Homo sapiens: one gene and its partners. The protein of the gene in region 1 purifies or fractionates together with the protein of each later gene. This does not show direct contact. Each region holds a gene or a part of one and is shown on either strand. Other genes may lie near its edges. The genes, in order: PPP1R7, DNAAF10, TTLL12, DNAAF11 and ADISSP.

Region 1 (4,713 bases):
GGTCAGGCACTACCTGGCCCCTAGTGATTGATCACCAGCCTGCCTGCCTCCCTGCTAGCTGTGGTACCCAGGTTGGCCCCTGCCTGTGGTCTCAGCACTCTGTGCCCCATGCTCTGTTCCTAGGCAGGGCATGCAGAAGGAATCGTTACGCTTCAGGAACATTGCTTCAGTATCAGCTCGTTTCCCAAACCTGCTCCCTAATTTTTTGCCAGGTGCCCTTTCCCTATCACCTGGTCCTCTGTCTCTGGACTCCTTATTCCTGTTGTTTGGTTTCTTTGTGTTGTTCCCTGGCTTCTTTGCCAACTCCCTATGCACTAATTCAACCAGCCTACCACCAGCCACACCTTCCTTCAAGGGTGGGCTGCACATAGACCCACCTGGACTCATTGAGGCTCCCCCTGGCCTGGTACATCTTTATCACCTGCCAAATTCTGGCTCTGATCTTCCCAGACATGCTCTGGTATCCCATCATGACACTACTCAAGACCCAGTGCCACTAATAAGGGGCAAGGAACATTTGCAGCAGGCCACCTGTGTTCTAGGGAAACTTGGATGACCTTTTAAAGTGGGGAAAGGAGAAAGCACAGGACATAAGCAGGGTCAGCAGCACGGCTAGAGGAGAGACAAGGAAGAATGATGCCTTACACTCAGCATGAATCCTGGATTAGACTGAATGTATCTGAGGACACTACTACATTCCCAGCATCACAGGGTGACACCTGTGCCGCAGTCTCTGCAGGGCCACGTGCTAGCGGAAAGGCAATAAACCTTAGGAGATTTCTCTAAGGGAATCCTAGCACTGAAGACTTCCACTCGGGGATCATTTCCCAACCCCTTTAGAGGAACTGCAAAAACTTCTTATATTCTGTTTCTCTTCCTGCTGACTCCACAACACTACTCCTGAAACCATACCTGTGACAAGACAAATACAAGGCAAATTCCAAGATGACTAACTGCAGAAACCCATCCAACATTTCCTTCTGTTGTGCTGGAATATATCTGTAGGGAATGCGTCTGCCTCTCTGCTGAGGTTTGCAAACCATTTGGTCAAATGACAATTGTAGGTTCTACCCATACCTAGATCAGGGCTTCTCCAACCTTTGTGTGTACTGCAATCACCCGGAGTCTTGTAAAGCAAAGATTTTGACTCAGTTTTCATCTGGGCTATGGTGGGGCCCAAGATTTTGCATTTCTAACAAGCTATGTCAATGCTGCTGATCTGTGGCTCACGCTGAGGAGCACAGACAACACCCAATACAAGTCTACAAGAGCGCCCACCCCAAATCTCATGATGTGCGGAGTCACTCAGCATGAAGGCTTACAGGAGATTCTTGTATTCATTCATAAGACATTTTAATCAGTGAGACCAGTTTAGTCAAAGTGTCATCAACCCCAGCGTGTATTAAACTTACCCAGAACTCTTGCAGCTCTGTTAGATGGCTGATATTTTCAATCTTTTTGATTCTATTTGATGCAATGTCCAACATCGTGAGTTTGTTCTAAAAGAAGGAAATAAAATGTTTCCTGGATTACCTCTGATCAACAGTGATTTGCATGACCACGCAGGCAGTGTCAAGTGCTGACCTTAGGGCTGCAGGTGCACTGCCCTCTCTGCCCTCACAGGGTAAGGGCATGCTATGGAGGGTGACGAGACCTGCTTGCTTCCTGCAGCCCTCCCTGGGACAGTGTTTCCATCAGAGCCTGCCCAGCTATCTCCCTGAGCTCTCCTGATCGCTGGAATTTGAGACTGTGTCAGACTCCAAGCCCAGTCCTCCCAGATCCCTGTCCATTGAGACAGACCTAGTGAGACTGATGGTCCCAGGAAGAACCGAGTAACCCCCTGACGCTCTGAAGAAAGGCTGACAATTGTAGAAACATTTACTTAGTGCTCATCACGAGGAAATGTACGACCAAGTAATCTTCAAAACAAAGTTCCTCTCTTCATTTAGGGATGAGGAACTTGGGGCTCAGTGGGGCTAAGAATCTGCCCAGGCGCACAGTAGCAGTGGGAGAGGCAGGACTCTCAGACCCCAGGCCTACACTCTTGTCTGGGAAAAGGGTCCCGGGAGCATAAGTGCAGAGAAGGGACCCATGCTGAGGACTGGGTGCTGGGCCTGCTGAGCACCTGCTGCAGGGTGTGTGCCCCCACTGGGAGACAAGAGTGTGTTTTTAGGATCTTCTACTCTGAAAATGCACATCAGTTACTCACTTTCCAATACATGTTAGCTAAGCCTGAGTAATAATTTTGTTTCTCATCAAAAGGAAAACATTTACAAGCTGTCTGAGAACCTCTGACAAAGTTCATTCCCTTCTCTGCCCTCACGCTCTGCTCCCTCCTGAGTCCCTTCCTTGGTTTTCTACTGCATTTTTGGTATTCCAATTCCAAAGCCTTCTAAGTTTTAAGGGAAAGTTAAAAAATTTCTCAAAAGCAAATACTCCTCCCCCCATCTCCCCTGAAATGTACCCAGCCAGTAGCTTTCCCAATTCGAAAGCGCTATGGCTGTGGCCTGGGAGCTCCTCTGGCTGTACCACCCTTGCTGCCTTGGCGCCCAGCACCCCAGCTGGCACCAGCTGCGTGTGTCAAGTCTGACGCCACTCTCCAGCAGGCTATACGTGGCATGCTGCCTAGGAGGTGCCTTCAAACCACCCCATCTCGGTGCCCTGGTCAGGTCTGCTCACAGAGTATCAGGCTCAACAGTGTGCGAGGGAGCTCAGTGGGGCGGGTTCAGAGCAAAAAGGACTGCAGGAAAATGTTGCAGAAGACGCGACTGTGGGTAATCCAACGACACACCGCCTGGCGGTGGGGCTGGAACAGGCCTCTCTAGCACGGACGGCAGCTCTCCCCCGCACTCTGCACCATTCTGAGATGCTCATGGTCATCTGGTATGCAAGCCCAGAAACTGGCAAAATGAAAGTGGCCTGGAACACACGCAGGATTTGAGCCTCGTGAGGTCCAAGCACCAAGGCTCAGCACGAGGGGCAGAGCCGGTGGTGGGCTCTGGCTGTCAGAACCGGTCCATCACCTCTGAGCTCAGGGATCCATGTAGGCACTCAACACTATTTCACGTTTTTCTACAGGAGCTGGACAATGTTGTGAAAACTCATCCAAAAGCAAACTAGTAAGAACTGCTTAAGAAACAGAAAAAAAGAATGGAACAGGGTGAGGAGAGCAGGCACACCAAAGGGCATGACACAACGCCACAGAAACTACACCTGTCAGGGACCACTGCAAACATATTCTAGACCAACGGGAGAGCCCAGAGCTGGAGAAGACACGAAGAACAAGACAGGAGTCGTGAGACACTGGGATGGGGGGTGTCGTCTAAGTTCCCACCTGGGACAAAACTACATTTACTTTCTTATTTCCCACCATAAAAATAAATTCCAGATAAATTAAGAAACAAAACTTAGGAGAAAATATTTGTCTGATCTTTAGTTGAAAAAAATGGCAGAAGAAAGACTGTCACATTTGATCATGATGAAGATTACAATAACGTAATTACCTTTAATACAACAATTTTTTTTTTTCTGTTTTGTTTCAGAGGCCCAAGAATAATCTGGTGTTTAACCAAGATCACAGTGTAGCACTTCTACTGGTAAAATTCTGAACCACACTTCTTTCCAGTTTTCCTGGGACTGGCTGCTTATGTGAACTGTGCTGCAGATTGTCTGTCTCCCGGTGGATGCTTGGTGGTGACTGCAGGGCCTTGGCTCAGGGAGGCCAGGGTGCAGGAGGGCACCAGGGCTCCCTGCTGCGCACCCCACCCGGCCCCAACCCCAGCCCCTGCCACACAGTCCTCAGCGCCATTCCACTGCAGGCACGTCTCGACTTACCACTCTAAACTACACAGGTGAACACTTGGTTTGCATGCTAGTTTTATAAACTTTTAATTTCAATGCAAAGTCAAAGGAAGGTGACCAAACTTTCCACAGGCAAATTTGAATTTTTCCAAAATTTTATGCAGGTGTTGGTGAAATTTACTGCTGCCAACTAGGCCCTGGGGTTGAGGCACAAAGGCCTTTAATGAGATTGAAACACTATGTTTATAGACCAATCTGGTTGTATTTGCTGGCAATTTAACAAAACAGAAAAAAACAAGTAAAATTGAATGAGAAAAAGTCTTTTATTTGTCTTGAACACCGCACTGGGGCAGAGCAGGGTGAGCTGGAGGCAGCTGAGGAGGGTGGGGGCTCTGTGAGCACACTTCCCCTCAGTACGTGAGGCTGTCCTGCACCTGAGTGAGAAGGGCCGGGGAGGGAGGGAGGAGCATGAACAGGTGAGGACAGGTGTGGAAAGCAGGCAGGGAGGAATGGGGGAGGAGGAAGCTGCTCATACTGTAAGAAGAGGAAGGGGCTGGGACTGAGAGCTGGTCCTGTGCTCTCTGTGGGCTGGGAAGTAGGGGCTGAGGCCAGTGGACCCATGGACAGGTCAGTGGCCTAAAGGGATGCCAGTCACCCTCATACAGGGCCCTTTACGAGCAGGTTGGGTTTGTTTTTTTCAAATCTTGCAAAATGCCTGCAGTGCACAGTGGGTGTGCAATGGATGCTGCCCCATTGAGGAAGCCTAGGGAAGCCTGTGCTGAAATCCCACATAAAGCGTCAGCCCTTCAAGGCACACTCAGGGCAGAGGGCCAACAGGCACACACAGCTCCTGCACTTTTCAGTATGAGGAAAGGGTCCCTTAGTTTTTAGGATGGGAAGGTCTTTCTGATA
Region 2 (4,713 bases), about 170 Mb from region 1:
TTTTTAGTAGTGTGGATGATCATACCTGAAGTAAGTTTATAATCTGTGGTTAAACTCATCCTCCTGGAATTAATTCAAGGATTTTTTTCCAAGTATCTCTTGCTGAGGAAAGAGTGTTAAGTGAGAAGGAGGCCCCTGTCACTGTGCTATGCTATCTGGGCATCCTATCCCAATGCTTTCATTGCCCCTAACTTCGTTTTTCTCATAAACTCCAGCCCTGCATTTCCACTGTGGGCCCCACCTAGATGGTACACCATCATCTTAAACTCATGATGTCCCAAAATGACCTTACCATTTTCCTTTACAAATTATCCCACCCCTTGTATAATTTTTTCAATTAATACCATCATTCACCCCACAATCAGCCTGAAAACTCAGTCATCTTGGACATTATCCTTTTCTTTGTTCTTCATATCCAAAAACATTCCCAAATTCTATGTATTCTGCATAATATTATCTTCTGAATCATCCACTCTGCTCCCTTCTCAGTGCTTGTAACTTAGGTCTTCCCTGGAATACTGCAAAGAGCTCTTGAACTCATATTCTCTGTACCACTCATCACTCCCGCTAAATACCACTAGTTCATTTTCCTAAAGCTCGGATTTCATCTCTTCCTTGCAAACACCATCAAAAACTTAGAACTATCTTCAGGCCGTCCTAACACCTCTGGCCATTGTCCTGAGCCATCTCTAAGGATATTCCTACTATTACTCTCTTCTACCGTTGGCCCTCCCTATCCATGGGTTCTGCATCTATAGGCAACCAACAATGGATCGAAAATATTTGGAAAAAAATTTGCATCTACACTAAAAACGTACAGACTTCTTGTGCTTGTCATTATTCCCTAAACAATACAACAATGACTGACACAGCATTTATATTATATTAGGTATTATAAGTAATCTAGAGATGATTTAAAGTATACGGGAGGATGTGTTAAACCATTCATGAGAACTCCGCCCCCATTAATCACCTCCCACCAGGCCCCACCTCCAACACTGGGGATTACAATTGGACATGAGATTTGGTGGGGACATAGATCCAAACCATATCAAAGGGCAAATGTCAATTAGTCTTCCAAAGTCAATATTCATTTTAAGTAAATTAATGAAGGAATACAGTTATCAAAATTTATAAGAAATAACTTTGTAATGGCAAACTATTTTCTAGAAAATAAACATACTCCGTATATAGCGTAATGTATGATTTGTTAGGTAACTGTTTGCATTTGAGGCTTGGTTTATCCCCATTAATGGTGTCTGACTTTAAATTAGGTCAATATTATCTAGTTAAACAGGAACACATAATAATAAGCACAATTCTCAGCACTTTACATGTAATTAACTCATTGACTCTTCATGACAACACAACTAAGTAAATTCTATTATTAATTCCATTTTATAAATGAAACATCCAAGGAACAGATAACTTTGGTAACTTGCTCCAGGCCACATGGCCAATAAGTAGCAGGTGAGAATTCAAACTCAGGCCCCAGAGGCTGACATTAACCACCACGTGTATTTGCCTCAGTAAACTATTAGAATAATCCACAAAACAGACCATAAAGAGACTACTGTGAAATTTCTTGCAGCATCGTGCTTTTTACCATCTGATAATTCAAATGCAAGAATTCTTCAATAATTTACCAAATGCCACAGTCCAACAGTCTCTCTTGTTTTCTCCTTGTACAGGTTCCATATTAGCAACAGGATCATCTTTTTGCCTTGGGTCCCACACCTTCACAGTTCCTGCCATGCATAAAAGTGAGTTGGCAAAAATTCAAAAGTAAATGATTATGTTTCTTTTCTACATTCTTCTTCTATGGCTTCCTGTGTACATGGCAATATGACAGATGTTATGACATCTGAAAATATCCACATTGTTCTGACTTCTAATTGGGTAAGTTGTATTTAATATCAGAGATATCACCCATATGTAACTATCTGACTTGGTTTCCAAATTAATAGACACACAGAAAAGCCAACAAGTGTTCCTAAGTTATCTACGAGTGATGACTGACAAGGCAAATGTGAATGTTACGTAATTCAAATCATGAGCCTAAAATGAATGTGTTATTTTTTAGGGAAAATACCAGTGTTGTTTTAATTTTTACTTTTTTCCTTATTACCCATTTTAACCATTGGCATGAATACACTCTAATTTTGAATTAATGGTTTCTTATGTGAGTTCTAGAATACTATTTCTTTTTCTTTCTTTCTTTCTTTTGTTTTGAGATGGAGTCTCACTCTGTCGCCCAGGAATGCAATGGCGTGATCTTGGCTCACTGCAACCTCCGCCTCCTGGGTTTAAGCGATTCTCCGTCCTCAGCCTCCCAAGTAGCTGGGACTACAGGCATGCACCACCACGCCCAGCTAAATTTTGTACTTTTTTAGTAGAAATGGGGTATTGCCATGTTGGCCAGGCTGGTCTCAAACTCCTGACCTCAGGTGATCCACCTGCCTGGGCTTCCCAAAGTGCTGGGATTACCGGCGTGAGCCACTGTGCCTGGCCTAGAATACTATTTCATATACAGTTAAGTTTAATTTTCCTGTGGCAATAGTGAAGAGGAAAATGTTAAATAAAATTAACAAATTCTCAATTTAATTTCAACCCCCTTGTTTTAATTCATGTTATGGGACTACTTACTAAAATAGTGTCACTACCTACAAAAAATGCAAATGCATGTAATAAAATGGCTAAAAGGCAAGTACCTGAGAATAAGAAAAGGGCAAAAAAAAAAAAATCCTTAAAAGGAAAACAACTCAGGAAAGGTGGAGGTACAACATTAGATTTATCTCCAGGGATAAAATAAAGTTGATCATTAAAAGGCTGCTTTACTTTAATATTTATTTATTTAGAGACAGGGTCTTGCTCTGTCACCCAGGATGGAGTGCAGTCGTGCGATCATGGTTCACTGTAGCCTTGACCTCCTGGGTCCAAGTGATCCTCCTACCTCAGCCTCCCAAGTAGCTGGGACTATACCACCATGCCTGGCTAATTTTTAGTTTTTGTAAAGATGGGGTCTCCCTATGTTGCCCAAGCTGGTTTCAAGTGATCTTCCCACCTCAGCCTCCCAAGTGCTGGGATTACAGAGATGAGCCACTGCACCCACCAAAAGCCTGTTTTAAAAAGAAAAAAAAAATCCCAGATATAGAGATAAGAGATTATCTTTCTCTATAGGATTCATACAAATTGATAAGATCTCAGCCCACTTCAACCTCCCACTGCCAGGTTCAAGCAAAACTTGTGTCTCAGCCTCCTGAGTAGCTGTGATTACAGGTGTGTGCCACCACACCTGGCTAATTTTTGTATTTTAGAAGAGACAGGGTTTCGCTATGTTGCCCAGGCTGGTCTCAAACTCCTGGTCTCAAGTTATCCGCCCGCCTCAGCCCCCAAAGTTGTGGGATTATAGGCGTGACTGTACCTGGCCCAATAAATTTTTTAAAAAATCATAAAATATATTTATTCCAAAAGAGTTACACATATGACAATACTCATTTACTCATTATTTTTAAGCCACTCTCATAAGACAACAAATAAAAAAAGCAAACCAAAGGCTTATAAGGGAATGGTTAAGTACGGCCATATGATGGAATATTATATAGTCATTAAAATGATAACTGTGGAAACAGCAACATTTGCATATGACAAAACATTAAATAAAAAAAGTTTCTAAGATACAAATTCATATTCACACTTATAACTATGCAAAATTATATATAAGACCTAAAAGGAAAAGAAAAATCTAATGGTTGTGGTAGTGTGGTAGACTGAATGTTATTTTTCCCTCTATACTCAATATTGCTTTTATGATTAAAAAAAATAAGTGATTTCTAAAACACAGCTGCTCTTGAGTACCCACTAGAAAATTATATCTCACTTTTCCTTTAAAGCAATTTCCTCATGGTCTTGAGCGGCCATTAAACAACTAGCCAAATCAATTATAATAGGTACCAAATTTCTCATGTACCCCTCGTGAAGCAACAACATTTCTGACTCTATTAAAGTCATGCAGTACCACTTCGGACACCAAAAGACCTGGCCCTTGTTGGTCACTGCAGGGTGGAAGAGCTGAGTTGGTGCCTTTGGAACTCTCTATAATGCTTAGTGGATGGATCACAGAACTTCAGTTTTCAAGCAGCTGTCAATATGACAATTTTCACAAGTACTAATTCTGCCTTTTAAAAAAAGAAAATGAAAAGCTGCCACCCACATTATATCGTCAGCTGCCTCAAAAACCTGTAAAGACATTTTAAATCCTTCAAGGTTCAGAGGAAACCATCATTGTTAGTAGCTGAACCAGCTCAACACTAAAATAGTGTTAATAAGTGCTATGAATCTATCTCAAAATAGCCAAAAGTCTGAAACAATCGAGAGATAAGCAATCAAACTTGTCTGTTAAAAAAGTAGCAGCAAGACTGTTAGATTTAGGGAGTCAAGGTGACTGAAGGGGATTTTTTACTCAGAGAGGATGTACTGCTGCATAGAGATTTCCATTAAAATAAATAAACAAAATACATAGAATACAGGGACTCACCATCTCGGCTGCCAGTCACAATTTCAGGTGCTCCTTCTCCAATTCCTAGTCCACCTATGCCATCTATGGCATTTATAATTTCTTTATGGCCCTTTACAGAATATACTGGCATCTCTGGAGCTTCTAAATTCCTAAACAACAAACACAGCTTCTTACACCACATATCCCAAACATAT
Region 3 (4,713 bases), on another chromosome or scaffold:
GCTGCCTGGCCTCTGGCAAACCCCTCCTTGTTTCCCATGCCCCTGCCTCTGACAGCTCTCTGGTGCCCCCTCAGCTCCCAAGGAGAAGTGGGCTGCCCTCTTCTGCCTCTGGGTCCTGGGGTGGCACCATCTGGGAACACAGGCCCCAGGCGCCCCCCAGACAGCCCTTCTGCTCCCCAGGGGCGAGGACAACCACTGGATCTGCAAGCCCTGGAACCTGGCGCGCAGCCTGGACACCCACGTCACCAAGAGCCTGCACAGCATCATCCGGCACCGAGAGAGCACCCCCAAGGTGGGCCCCGCAGACCAGGAGCCCCAGGGCTCAGGGCCCTGGCTGGACAGTGAGAGGTGGGGCTAAGGGGACCGAGCATCATGGTCCTTATGGACAGGTCCAGGCTGGGCAGGGTGGCTTACACCTGTAATCTCAGCACTCTGGGAAGTGGAGGAGGATCACTTGAGCCCAGAAGTTTGGAACCAACCTGAGCAACATAGGGAGACCTCGTTTCTACAAGGGAAAAAACTTTAAAAATTATCTGGGCATGTTGGCACACACCTGTAGTCCCAGCTTCTCAGGAGGCTAAGGCAGGAGGATCACTTGAGCCCGGGAGGTTGAGGCTGCAGTGAGCTGTGATCGCGTCACTGCACTCCGCCCTGGGCGACAGAGCAAGACCCAGTCTTTAAAAAAAGAACTGTCCTGGGTGCGTCTAATCGCAAAGTTCCTACCACATAGTGTGCCAGGTATGGCTGCCCAGCAGGGTGAGGTGGCTGAGCCTGGACAAGGAGCCTCTCAGAGCCGTGGTAAAGATTCATAGTGAGGGGACATCCAGAAGCAGTATTGGGATTGCAGGACACAGGATCTGCCTGGACTGTGTACATAGTCAGAGGCTGGCGGGAAATGCATCATGAGGACGATTGTCGTGGAGACTTCAGGCCATGGGATGGGGGTGGATGGAATTATGGGTGAGAATTTATATTTCATTTCAATTAAAAATGGATATAAAGACTTTGCTTCAGGGTGCGGTGGCTCACACCTGTAATCCCAGCACTTTGGGAGGCCAAGGTGGGCGGATCACCTGAGGTCAAGAGTTCGAAACCAGCCTGGCCAACATGGAGAAACCCCTTCTCTACTAAAAATACAGAAATTAGCTGGGGGTGGTGGCGGGCACCTGTAATCCCAGCTACTCAGGAGGCTGAGGCAGGAGAATCGCTTGAACCCGGGAGGCAGAGGTTGCAGTGAGCCAACATTGTGCCACCGCACTCCAGCTTGGGCAACAGAACAAAACTCTGTCTCAAAAAAAAAAAAAAGACTTTGCAGCAACTTAGGCAGGTTTGAAAAGGCAGAAGGAGGAGTAAAGTGCAGCCATGTCTGTGCCCCCTGCGTGGCTTTGTGTGCTCGGGAGCCCCAGGGGGCTCTGTCCTGGCCACCAGCGAGCTTGCACCTGTGTCCTCCAGGTTGTGTCCAAGTACATCGAAAGTCCCGTGTTGTTCCTTCGAGAAGACGTGGGAAAGGTCAAGTTCGACATCCGCTACATCGTGCTGCTGCGGTCAGTGAGGCCCCTACGGTTGTTCGTGTATGATGTGTTCTGGCTGCGGTTCTCCAACCGGTAAGTGGAGGGCCGGCTGGGTCCAGGGTCGGGGAGCTGGGTGACCGGGTGGAGGTAGCGGGTGGGTGATGGGCCCTTTTTGGAATCAGAAAATGTTGTTGGAAGGCACCCTCCATCACTCACCCAGCTAGCGGCCCTTGGAGCCCATCTCCCTTGGTGTTAATTGGCGGTGACTTGCCCTGCCCACCTCAGAGTTCTGGTGTTGCCCACAGTAATGGATGTGAACATTCTTTGTAAAATGGGCACCAACATGAGAACCAGGTGCCATTTTTATGGACCTGCAGAGGCTTCACAGCTAGCACCTCACTCACCTCCACCCCAGCTCAGTGGGGCTGTGGGGCTCCCCCAGCCACACAGACAAGGGAACAGGCTCCCGCCTGAGCAGCAGGTGGTCCTGCCCTGAGCCCTGAACCCCTAGTTGGGAAGGCTGAGTGGGTGGCACCTCCCTCGCAGGGACAAGGCCGCTCAAGAACCCATATGTGTCTGCACACTTGTCTTCCAGGGCCTTTGCACTCAACGACCTGGATGACTACGAGAAGCACTTCACGGTCATGAACTATGACCCGGATGTGGTGCTGAAGCAGGTAGGGCCTGAGGGAGGTGCAGAGCAGGTTCACACAGAGGCCAGGGCACACCCGACCCCACCCCGCCCACACTGCCTCCTAGGAGGACTGGCACACAGGCCAGTCCCAGGAGCCGCCTCCTGAGTTCCTGCTATGGAAGGCGATTGTTAGCGCTGCCATCATGAGCCAGGCTGGGTTCTGTGTTGTCTCAGGTAGGTCTCCCCACGGCACAGAGGGCCACTGGCTGTGTTTGAGATAATGTGGACACAGAGGGGGATGGGTCCAGCAGCAGGTTGAGACAGTGTGTTCCCAGCCGGGGCTTACTCCTCACCACCACTTCAACCGGAAAAGCAGACCACCCTGTGAGTGCCAGGGCAGGCGGGGGCGGGGAGGCCCCACCTGGTCCGGCTGGCTGCTGGCCCGTGACCCTGCCCGGGTCTAGGACCTCCTGTCCTCCCTGGTGCACAGTGTTGAGCGGTGCCCCATGCAGTGGGCACTCAGTGAATGGCAGCTGCACCATCTGAGCACCTGGAGCTCAGGGGCATCTGGACAAAGGCCCTTCCAAGGTGGGGGCGAGAAACCAGAGCTGGCCAGCCAGTGTACGTGGACAGGTAGGCACAGCCTGCACAGAAGCAGGAGGCCAGCTCTGGGTACAGGAAGGAAGAAAGGAAGTCCTGGAAGGCCTCTGTGGCCTGGCTGGTTAATGAGTGTTTCAGATGCACAGAACACCTACCCCACCCTGCCTGTCGCCAGCCTTGCAGGTGCCGCGGACTCCCCATGCAGCCAGCCCCAACGCTCCCCGACCCCTGAACGTGTGGCTGTCATTCCCAGGCATGTCTTTGGTTCTTTTCAGCAGGAGTATGTTCCTGACCATTCAAGCTGCTGTTTTGCTTACTTAGGTTTTTTGTTTTGTTTTGTTTTTTTGAGAGACAATGTCTCACGCTGTCACCCAGGCTGGAGTGCGGAGGCATGATCTGGGCTCACTGCAACCTCAATCTCCTGGGCCCAAGCCATCCTTCTGCCTCAGCCCCCTAAAGTAGCTGGGACTACGGGCACGTGCCTCCACGCCCGGCTAATTTTTTTGTATTTTTAGTAGAGACGGGGTTTCGCCATGTTGCCCAGGCTTGTCTGAAACTCCTGGACTCAAGCGCTCCGCCTGCCTCAGCCTCCTAAAGTGCTGGGATTACAGGCGTGAGCCACCATGCCCGGCCTCCTACTTAGGTTTTTATGTAAATATCATCTTATTCAACGGATCCTTCTGCAGCTTGCTTTGTTGGCTGAGTGGCGTGTTTTGAGGTTTTGAGGTTCGGGCTTGTTGCTAACTGTGGCGGCGATTGGTCATCTGAGGTCTTCACTAATGATAAATCATGGCGCGTGAACATGCGTGGAGGCACCTGGCCATGCCCATGTCCGAGGAGTCCTCTAGGAGGACTTGGAGAAAGGGCCCTGCCATGCACTGGTGACTATACCAGCACACACTCCCCACAGGGGCCGAGTGGTCCTGTTGCTTCTGTCTGTCTTATCCTTGCCTGTGTTGAAGCCTACTCCCTAGGACCCAGACCCCCCAGCAGGGCCCCAGGACATTGTTGGAAGTCGCCCTCAGGTTCTGAGCCCCTCCCTTCTGTACTGTGGGGGTCATCCCGGGAGTCCTCTCCTGGAGCTCTGTGCCTGGGGAGGTACGTCCAGCATGGCATGGATGGCGGGCTTCCATAGGGGCCTTTCCTGGCTTGTTCTTTTCTGGGAGAAACCTGAGCCGACTGCCACCTTCCTCGGGTGTGTTTTGGGTAAAGTCTTGAGGCCAGAAAGATCTTGCATCCCTCAAGCACTCTTGAGCTGGTGCTGAACCAGGGCACAGGCAGGTCCCGCGGCGGAGTCTTGAGCTCTGCCTCCTTCGCACTGTACTGAGCTGAGTGTGAGGATGGTGCCAGCCCAGGCCCTGCAGTTTCTGGAGCCCTCGATGTTCATTGTCTCGCGTGAGCCTCACAGCTGCGTGGCAAAGTCAGTTTACTGGGCAGAGCACATTTTCCCATTTCACAGAGGAGGAAACAGGCTCAGAGAAGTTAATCCGTTGGTCCAGAGTCACACAGTAAGACCTGGAGCCCAGACTCCATCTCCTGCCTCCTGTTTGGACCCTGAGGGTTCGGGGTTGGCTGCCTGCTCCTGGAACCCCCACCCAGTGTCAGAAGCTCCTGGTCCAGGCAGTAGCAGGCTGCCTGCTCCCGGCCCAGCGGAGGCCTGTACAGAGCGTGATGGGCCCTGTGTCTGTTGCAGGTGCACTGTGAAGAGTTCATCCCCGAGTTTGAGAAGCAATACCCAGAATTTCCCTGGACGGACGTCCAGGTAATTCCTGTCCTGCACACCATCGCAGGCCGGTGGGGCGGGTCCCGGGCTGGGGGCCTGCAGGAGCTGCTCCCTTCCCTCTCTGCTGGCATGGGCTGGGAGGGACCTTTGTCCCCTGCAGTTGGTCATTCTCCCCAGAGGCTGGCAAGACAGCGTGGGCTCCCCTCCCTTCCACCCTGGGCATTTGTGGGTGCTCCTGAGAGGGA
Region 4 (4,713 bases), on another chromosome or scaffold:
ATCAGGGCTGGGAACAGAACCCACGAAGATTTCCTCTGGGTCCTGCATTACACCGCACTGCCGCCCACAGGACTGAGGCGAGTGGACAGATTTGAAAGATGTGGGTGGAGAAAGTGGTCCTCTTTTGCTGTGCCACAAACCCTTTTTACATGTTCTCTCTCCCCCGTGCTTCCCAATAAATGGCCTTCTGCCTCTTGCTAACATCTCCTGACTGCTCCTGTGTGCCCTTTTTTCCGCTGCCTTTCCTGTATTTTCCAAAAAAAGACGCAGGGATGTCATTAGTACAGGTTTTAGAGAGACCGTGCTCGAGAGTTCATCTAGTGTACCTGTTCATTTTAGAGATGAGGAGGGGAACATTGATTCAGCCAGTGTCACATCCCGTCAGTCAGGAGAGACGTCGAACCTAGGATACGAGCTTCCCGGCTTTCGCGGCTCTTTCCACAATTCTCAACCTCCTTCAACTAAAGGAGAAATTTGGGCTCCTGAGAAAGGATGATAATAATAGCTCACTCACAGTTATTGAGCTGCTTATTGCCTTCTAGTCAGTGTTCTGAAAGTTTCTCTGTGTGTGTACTCATTGAATTCTCACAAAAATCTTTTGAGGTAGACACTAGTATCATCACCTCCATTTTGCAGATGAGGAATCTGGAGCACAAAGAGGTTAAGCAGCGTGCCCAGTGCCACACAGTAAGTGGTATATCTGGGATGGTAAGCAGAGCCCGCACTCTTGTGTATGTTTGCTATATTGTCTCTTAGGAGTAAGAGACAGTTTGGTGAGAAAAGGAGAGGTCATGGTGCAAATTCTCATGTAAAGTTGAAGAGACCACTATTTTTGATGTTTGTGTCTGCTCAGGAGGACCAATATTGAGCCTGGGGATGGTGGCAAGAGGAAAATGAATTAGTTCCTCTCTGTGCATTTAATCTGGTGTGTGTTGTGATTTAGAGAAGATCTAGTGTCTTTATTCTTAAATTTTATACTATTGAATGCATTTTGTATTACTGGGACACATTTGTCATCTATAGATCTTCTTTGGTGAAATGTCTTCAAATATTTTGCCCATTTTATACATTGATTTGTTTTCTTATCCTTGAGTTTTAAGAGTCTTCTATATATTCTGGATATAGGTCATCAGATACATGATTTGCAAGTATTTTCTCCCCACCTATGGCTTATATTTTCCTTCTCTTAATTATTTTGAAAGAGAAGATTTAAATTTTGAAGTTTAATTTATTATTTTATAGATCTTGCTTTTGATGTCATATCCAAGAAATCTTTGCTAAGTTTACATAGATTTTTCTCTTTTTTTTCCTAGAAATTTTATAATTTTTGGTTTTATGCTATTCCATCATTCATTTGACTCAATTTTTGTATATGATGTGAGATGTAGATTACATTGTTGTTGTGTGTGTTTTTTTTTTTAATATGGAAATCCAGTAGTACCAGCCCCACTTGTTGAGGACTATGCTCTCTCCATTGAATTGAACCTTTGGATAAACCAGTGGCTTGTATATGTGTGTTCTCGACTTTCTTTTCTGATTCATTGATTTATTTGTCTTCCTCTGTGCCAATTTCACACTGTCTTGATTACTGGAGCTTTGTAATAAGTAGTCTTGAAATCCAGTAGTGTTTTTCCTCTAAATTTTTTAATCTTTTAAAGTTGTATTCAGATCCTTTACATTTCTATATGAATTTCAGTAGTATCTTGTCAATTTGTACAAAAATAAGTCTGCTGGGATTTTGACCTGAATTGTGTTAAATCTGTAGCTCGATTTGGGGAGAATGAGTATCTTAACAATATTGAATCTTCTGACCCAAAAACAAGGGATATATCTCCATTTATTTAGATATTACAAAATGTCTACAATATTTTTGAAGTTTTCAATGGACAGACTTTGCACATATTTTTCTGATTTATCTCTAAGTACTTCATATTTTTGATGCCATTGTAAGTGTTGAGTATATAGAAGTATACTTGATTTTTTCATATAGATCTTATATTCTGCAATCTTTTCAAACTTTCTTATTCAATTAGCTTTTTATATGAATTCCATTTGATATTCTCTGTAGACAGTCATATCATCTGCAAATAGAAATAATTCTACTTCTCTACCACCTGGATGCCTTGTTTTTCCTTGCCTATTGCTAGAACCTTCAGTATAATGTTGAAGTGGTGAGAACAGATTTCCTGGCCTTTTTTTCTGATTCTTACGGGAAGAGTCTTTCTCTGCTCGATATAATGTTGATTATAGGTGTTTTGTGGATGCTCCTTGTCAAGTTGAGTTCCTTTTTATTTCTGGTTTTCCGAGTTGTTGTCTTTTTAAAATTGGGAATGGATGGTGGATTTTGTCAACTGCTGTTTTGTCTCTACTGACATTATCACTTTGTTAGTTTATTAATATTGTATGTTACTTGGATTTCTGAGCATTATATCAACCTCGTATACATTGGATAACTCCCCCCTTGGTTATAATGTATAATTTTTTTATTATGTTGTTGGATTTGATTTGCAAAATTTTTTTGCTTAGGATTTTTACATATGTGTTCATGAGGTACATGGATCTGTAGTTTTCTTTTCTTGTAATGCATTTGATTGGTTGTAATTCTGACCTTATAGAATATAATGGGAAGTATTATTTCCTCTTCAATTTTCTACAAGAGTTTGTGTATATGGGGTATTATTTTCCCTTAAGTTTTTGGTAGAATTAATCAAAGGAGACATCTGTGCCATAGTTTTATTTGTGGAAAGAAAGGTTTTTAACTACATATCCAGTAGATATAGGGCTGTTCAGCTCATCTATATATTCTTGAGTGAGCTTTTGTAATTTGTGTCTTTTAAGGGATTCACCCGTTTAATTGATGTTCTTGAATTTATTGGCATAAAGTTACCTATAATATCTGTAGAATACATATGATGTTACCTCTCTCACTCCTAATATTGGCAGTTTGTGTCTTCTCTCTTTTTTGCTGATAAGTCTGACTGAAAGTTTACCAATTTTATTTTCTTAAAGAGCCAGCTTTAATTTTTATTAATTTTTCTCTATTTTTTTCTGCTTTTCATTTCATTGATTTCTGTTATAATCTTCATTATTTACTTTCTTCTGCTTATTTTGGGTTTAATTTGTTCTTTTTCTAGATCCTTAAAGTGGAAGCCAATATTTGAGACCTTTCTTTATTCCTACTATAAGTATTTAATGCTATAAATTTACCTCTAAGTAATGTTTTAGCTGTATCCTGCAAATTTTGATATGTTGCTTTTCTGTGTAATTTTTTTTTTTTTTTTTTTTTTTTTGAGACGGAGTCTTGCTCTGTCACCCAGGCTGGAGTGCAGTGGCACGATCTCAGCTTACTGCAAGCTCTGCCTCCTGGGTTCACGCCATTCTCCTGCCTCAGCCTCCTTGTAATTTTTAACTCTGTTCAAAATACTTTCTAATTTTCCTTTTTATTTCCTTATGCCCAAATTTAAAAAATTACTTTTGTATGTTTTGTATAGATTTTTAGGCTAGAGGGTAAACCCTGTTTTATTACTCTATTATGTCCAGAACCTGACGTCACTGCTAATCTTATGATGAAGTACTGGTCCTAGCCCTCAGCTTTCTCTGTCCTCTGGTTTCAGGAAATGAAAACCTCTTCATAGTGCTCCCAGTCCAGTCCTCTGGTTTCACACTTCCTCTCTCAGCCTTTCCTGATCAGTTGTGTTTAGCAGCAGCCTTTATACAATACAATATAATTGTCCTTTAAGTTACAGTTTCTCTCACATTTCTCTAACACCTGACATGTTACACTTACTAGTACATTCCCTTCCACTTGTATCCTATCTCTGTTCAACACCAGTGCAAGTCTTTACAATTGCATAACTGCCTTGGGCCAGGCACTATCTATGTTCTGCCTACCAGGAATAACAGTGTCCTTGCCACTGTGACAACATGTAGTCTGACTCCAAAATCCTATCTTAGCTAGCATCTGCTTTCATGCACCACTTCTGGTATCAACTCTTCCAGTTTAGGCTCCTCAGGAAGCCGATATCTAGGTGGGAATTAGCATGCAGGAGGTTTATTAGGGAGCATTGTTGGGGTGGGTAGGAAAGAAATCAAAATTGAGCAGAGGGGGAAGTTGGGCTGTGATATGTCTAACAAAGGCCTTAGGAAACCAACCAGGAGATCTAAACTTGGAATGAACCTTCTGACTTGCCCAAGTTGGGGTGAAGAACTGGGCCTTTATAGCCCCTACATCAACCAGTCATTGAATGTGGACTTTCCCAGGAAAGGAAAGGCCATGACCTTGGCTGAACAATCTCTTCGCTGAGACAGCTCATGAAGAAGGTGGGCAGCAGAGGGCTGTCTGTCAACAGAGCCCCCAGCAGCTAGAGGAATTAATCCTTCAGTTTTGAAGAGGGACCTGAGAAGTGCATCATGTCATCCACGATGGCCTAAGGTGCCCTTTCCTGGTTTATCTAACAAACATCTACTCACATTTCAAGATTCAGCTCAGGGCCGGGCGCGGTGGCTCAAGCCTGTAATTCCAGCCCTTTGGGAGGCTGAGGGGGGTGGAACATGAGGTCAAGAGATCGAGACCATCCTGGCTAACACGGTGAAACCCCGTCTCTATTAAAAATACAAAAAAAAAATTAGCCAGGCGTGGTGGCAGGTGCCTGTAGTCCCAGCTACTGGGGAGTCTGAGGCAGGAGAATGGCGTGAACCCGGGAGGCAGAGCTT
Region 5 (3,586 bases), on another chromosome or scaffold:
ACGAAACTGACACCCTAGCCTCTGCCAGGCTGGGAGTGGGGCATGGGGCAGGGCCTGAAGTGAGCCTGATAGGAACAGCAGCCTGAAACCCAAGGTCTGGGACTGGTGGGTGCTAGGAGTTATCCACACGGTGTGTGTAGCTCCAGCAGGTTTTTCTAGAGGGTTAGGGAGGCAGGAGGGAAGGCTGGAGGCTTCAAACCAGTTCCTCAGCAGCTCCCATCTTGGTTACTGCCCCACGGAGGTAACCATCACACCATGGGCAGGTACAGGGAAGTATGAGCTCATGGACTTCTGTTCAGGACAGGGAGCAAGGCCTGGAGTGTGGGACCTGCCATGCTGCCACAGTGCAAGCTCACAAAGAGGTGCCACATCCCCGACTTGCTGAGCTGCCCATCCACCCTAGTTGGAAGTAAGGGAGCACCCCATGTTCTCACTCCCACACCCATCCAGGCCCTGCTGGAGGAGGGGACGCACCTTCAGGGACGGGCACCACGCTGAGGAGCTTGAGGTGCAGGCTGGGGACAGGTGCCTCGCGGACATCCTTGCTCAGCCTGTGCACTGGGGGCAGAGTGAAGGTAATCTCATACCTGTGCAGGATCTTCAGGAAGCCAACCTACAGCAGGAGAGGTGAGGGAGGGAGGCACCTTCACTTCCTGCTTCCCGCAGGCCCACCCAGTTGTGCCACCTATGATCCCATGCGCCCCAGCACCTGCTTCCCCAGAGAGCCCAGAAAGCCCAACTCCCTCCATCACTCCAGCTGATCGACCCCCAGCCCAGTGGCCCCAGCCCTTTCACAGACCCCTTGAGGGTCCCAGCCCTACAGCTTGGCCAGCAAGATCCTCAGCATCTGTCTCACGGGCCCCAAAGTCCTCAGTGGCTCATTTCATAGACAGGAAAATGGAAACCACAAAATGACTGGCCAAAGGCTATGTAGTGTGGCCAGGGTCAAGTCCTCCCTAGACTTCTTGGCCATTCCTGCTATGCATGGCACCCAGCAAGGCACCACCCACTGCCTACAAGGGAAAGTTCAAAGTCCCATGGGTCATTCACCTGTCCCCATCACTGCCAGTATCCCAGGGTCAGGGATGCTGGTCCTCCATTCGCTCATAGGATGACACCAGGCCACAGATAGCGTGGGATGAGGGATGGGATCAAATTAGAGATATGACAGTAGACCAGCTGTGTCAGCCCAGAGCTGGCCCACAGGCCTGGCACCAGCCACTGAACTGGGGCTCCTGGCTGCCCTGCTGGCACTGGACTGGGGATGCCTGCCTGCCCACTCAAAGGCTGTGTCCAATGGCCCATACTCACGACCCAAGCAATTTCTGTTGTTCATTCACAGTGCTTGGTGACAACCACCCTCTGGGACAAATGCCATTCTTGGAAACTCCAGTAGTATGAAGGGTCACAAGCCAGGGTGGTTGCTGAGCAGGGGGGCTGGTGGGGGTGCCACGCCAGCAGGCAAAGGGTGCCTGCTGTACTCCCAGCTTGCATGGGCACACAGAGTCCTGCTCACAGTTACTGGGGCTGGGCAGCCCCATCCCTGGGGGCCAACTGGGACTGGCTGCAGAGAGTTTTAGCCATTCAATGGGACCAGGTTGATATTGCTACATGACAAACTTCAATCCATGTGCCCCCCTCATGCTCTGCTGGTAGGGGGCACATCCCTCAAGAAGGCTTTCTGGCTGTACCTGCTAACTGTGACCCTGTGACCCAGGGGTACTACTTATAGAATTTTCCAGGGGAAATAGAGATGTGCAGAAAAATACTCTTCGCTGCCCTATTTATAACAATGAAAACAAAAACAGCCGTAACACCCAGGAACAGGGAGCCAGCTAAGTCAATGATGACACGTATCATGGACCAGTAGGCAGTTGTAAAATCTCGTGGAAAATTATTTACTGACACAGGTAGGAGACAGTTCACAACAGAAGCAAGCAAAAACCAGTGTGGACACGGTGAGGCCAGCTTTTGTTTTTGGAAACAAAGCTTTTTAAAATAAGCTGGATCCATCACCATAGTGTTTTCAGAAAAATAAATAAATAAATAAATAACATTTTAAAAAGCTGGAATAAGCCAGGTGTGGTGGCTCACGCCTGTAATCCCAGCACTTTGGGAGGCCGACACGGACGGATCACGAGGTCAGGAGATCGAGACCATCCTGGCCAACAGAGTGAAACCCCGTCTCTACTAAAAATATAAAAAATTAGCTGAGAGTGGTGGCACGCGCCTGTAATCCCAGCTACTCTGGAGGCTGAGGCAGGAGAATTGCTTGAACCTGGGAGCTGGAGGTTGCAGTGAGCTGAGATGGCGCCACTGTACTCCAGCCTGGAGACAGCAAGACTCCGTCTCAAAAAGAAAAAAAAAAGCTGAAATAACACACATCAGAATATTAACCATGGTTATTTTGGGATAGTATGACTGTGGGTACTTTTAAATTTCTTCATATTTTCTCTGTCTTCCAAATTTTCTCATGTCTATTAAGACATGAGTGGATTTTGCAATGAGGGGAGAGAGCTATTTTTAAGTGTTGGTTTGTTCCATTTACTCTCTTGGGGAAGCTGTCAGCTGTAGGACAAAGAGTGGGAACTTCAGAGTTGGACAGAAATGGATACAAACCTGGGCCCCCCAGGTTCTTTTTTGTTTGTTTGTTTGAGACAGAGTCTTTCTGTTGCCCAGGCTGGAGTGCAGTGGCACAATCTCAGCTCACTGCAACCTCAGCCTCCTGGGTTCAAGCAATTCTTCTGCCTCAGCCTCCCAAGTAGCTGGGACTACAGGCGTGCGCCACCACGCTCAGCTAACTTTTGTATTTTTAGTAGAGACGGGTTTCGACCCATTGGCCAGGCTAAACCTGGGCCCCTTTTGAGCAGCGCAGCAGACCCCCCACTCAGGGCCATCTCAATGGGCCAGACCTCCCCCGACCCAAGGGCACTCCTGTTCAACTCTGGACCCCTGATTTATTGACCAACCTGAAGGCCTCAGTCTCCATTTTCCCCAATCCAGCTCCACCAAGCAGAAAACAGGGGGTGATAATACTACTTCAAAGAGCCTAACTGAGCCAGAGATTTGGCAAAGAAGGGTTAAAAAAAAAGTTGCACCTTGTTATTGCCATAGTTAGCTTCACACCTGTATCACATACATACATTCTTCCATTCTCACACCAACTCTAGGGGATGTGATTGTCTCCACTTGAGAGAAAAGAAACTCAGGTGACCTTCCCAAGGTCACAGAGCCAGAATGGCTGGCCTAGACCTGAACTCAGGCCACTGGCACCACAGCCACGACACTGCCTTCCATTGCTATTGTCTGGGTGAAGCAGATGACAGCAGTGGCTCTGCTCATCTTGATCTGGATGACATTCTAAATGCTCTCATCTCATTGAAATCTCACTGCCTCCCATCTGACAGATGGGGCAACCAAGGCACAGGGAAAGGCACAGACATGCCTATAAGCCCGGCTGAGAGGAACGGGGATAGGCACCCAGAAGCCAGGCAGAGCCGGGGAGGGGAAGAAGCTGCTGATGGGGTAGGTGTGCATGTACCTTGACCAGAAAGCTGCTGTCACTCTCCTGGGTGACCATGACCAC

Evidence for each region.
Region 2: the proteins of PPP1R7 (region 1) and DNAAF10 purify together in Homo sapiens (affinity purification with mass spectrometry; one large-scale study listed by BioGRID and IntAct). This does not show direct contact.
Region 3: the proteins of PPP1R7 (region 1) and TTLL12 fractionate together in Homo sapiens (co-fractionation; one large-scale study listed by BioGRID). This does not show direct contact.
Region 4: the proteins of PPP1R7 (region 1) and DNAAF11 purify together in Homo sapiens (affinity purification with mass spectrometry; one large-scale study listed by BioGRID and IntAct). This does not show direct contact.
Region 5: the proteins of PPP1R7 (region 1) and ADISSP purify together in Homo sapiens (affinity purification with mass spectrometry; one large-scale study listed by BioGRID and IntAct). This does not show direct contact.

The regions. Positions count from the first base shown.
Region 1 is NC_000002.12:241,166,567-241,171,279, reverse strand, and holds part of PPP1R7 (protein phosphatase 1 regulatory subunit 7), read right to left. Parts: intron 4,236-4,713; coding exon of another isoform or gene 4,212-4,235; exon of another isoform or gene 4,106-4,211; intron 3,605-4,105; exon of another isoform or gene 3,543-3,604; intron 1,500-3,542; coding exon 1,413-1,499; intron 1-1,412. UniProt on the Homo sapiens protein: Regulatory subunit of protein phosphatase 1.
Region 2 is NC_000002.12:68,140,048-68,144,760, forward strand, and holds part of DNAAF10 (dynein axonemal assembly factor 10), read right to left. Parts: intron 4,669-4,713; coding exon 4,538-4,668; intron 1,749-4,537; coding exon 1,647-1,748; intron 1-1,646. UniProt on the Homo sapiens protein: Key assembly factor specifically required for the stability of axonemal dynein heavy chains in cytoplasm.
Region 3 is NC_000022.11:43,169,294-43,174,006, reverse strand, and holds part of TTLL12 (tubulin--tyrosine ligase-like protein 12), read left to right. Parts: intron 1-180; coding exon 181-292; intron 293-1,452; coding exon 1,453-1,604; intron 1,605-2,106; coding exon 2,107-2,188; intron 2,189-4,438; coding exon 4,439-4,507; intron 4,508-4,713. UniProt on the Homo sapiens protein: Negatively regulates post-translational modifications of tubulin, including detyrosination of the C-terminus and polyglutamylation of glutamate residues. Also, indirectly promotes histone H4 trimethylation at 'Lys-20' (H4K20me3).
Region 4 is NC_000008.11:132,668,518-132,673,230, reverse strand, and holds part of DNAAF11 (dynein axonemal assembly factor 11), read left to right. Parts: intron 1-4,713. UniProt on the Homo sapiens protein: Involved in dynein arm assembly, is important for expression and transporting outer dynein arm (ODA) proteins from the cytoplasm to the cilia. Acts as a crucial component in the formation and motility of spermatozoal flagella.
Region 5 is NC_000020.11:3,754,995-3,758,580, forward strand, and holds part of ADISSP (adipose-secreted signaling protein), read right to left. Parts: coding exon 3,542-3,586; intron 614-3,541; coding exon 475-613; intron 1-474. UniProt on the Homo sapiens protein: Adipocyte-secreted protein (adipokine) that acts as a key regulator for white adipose tissue (WAT) thermogenesis and glucose homeostasis at least in part through activation of protein kinase A (PKA).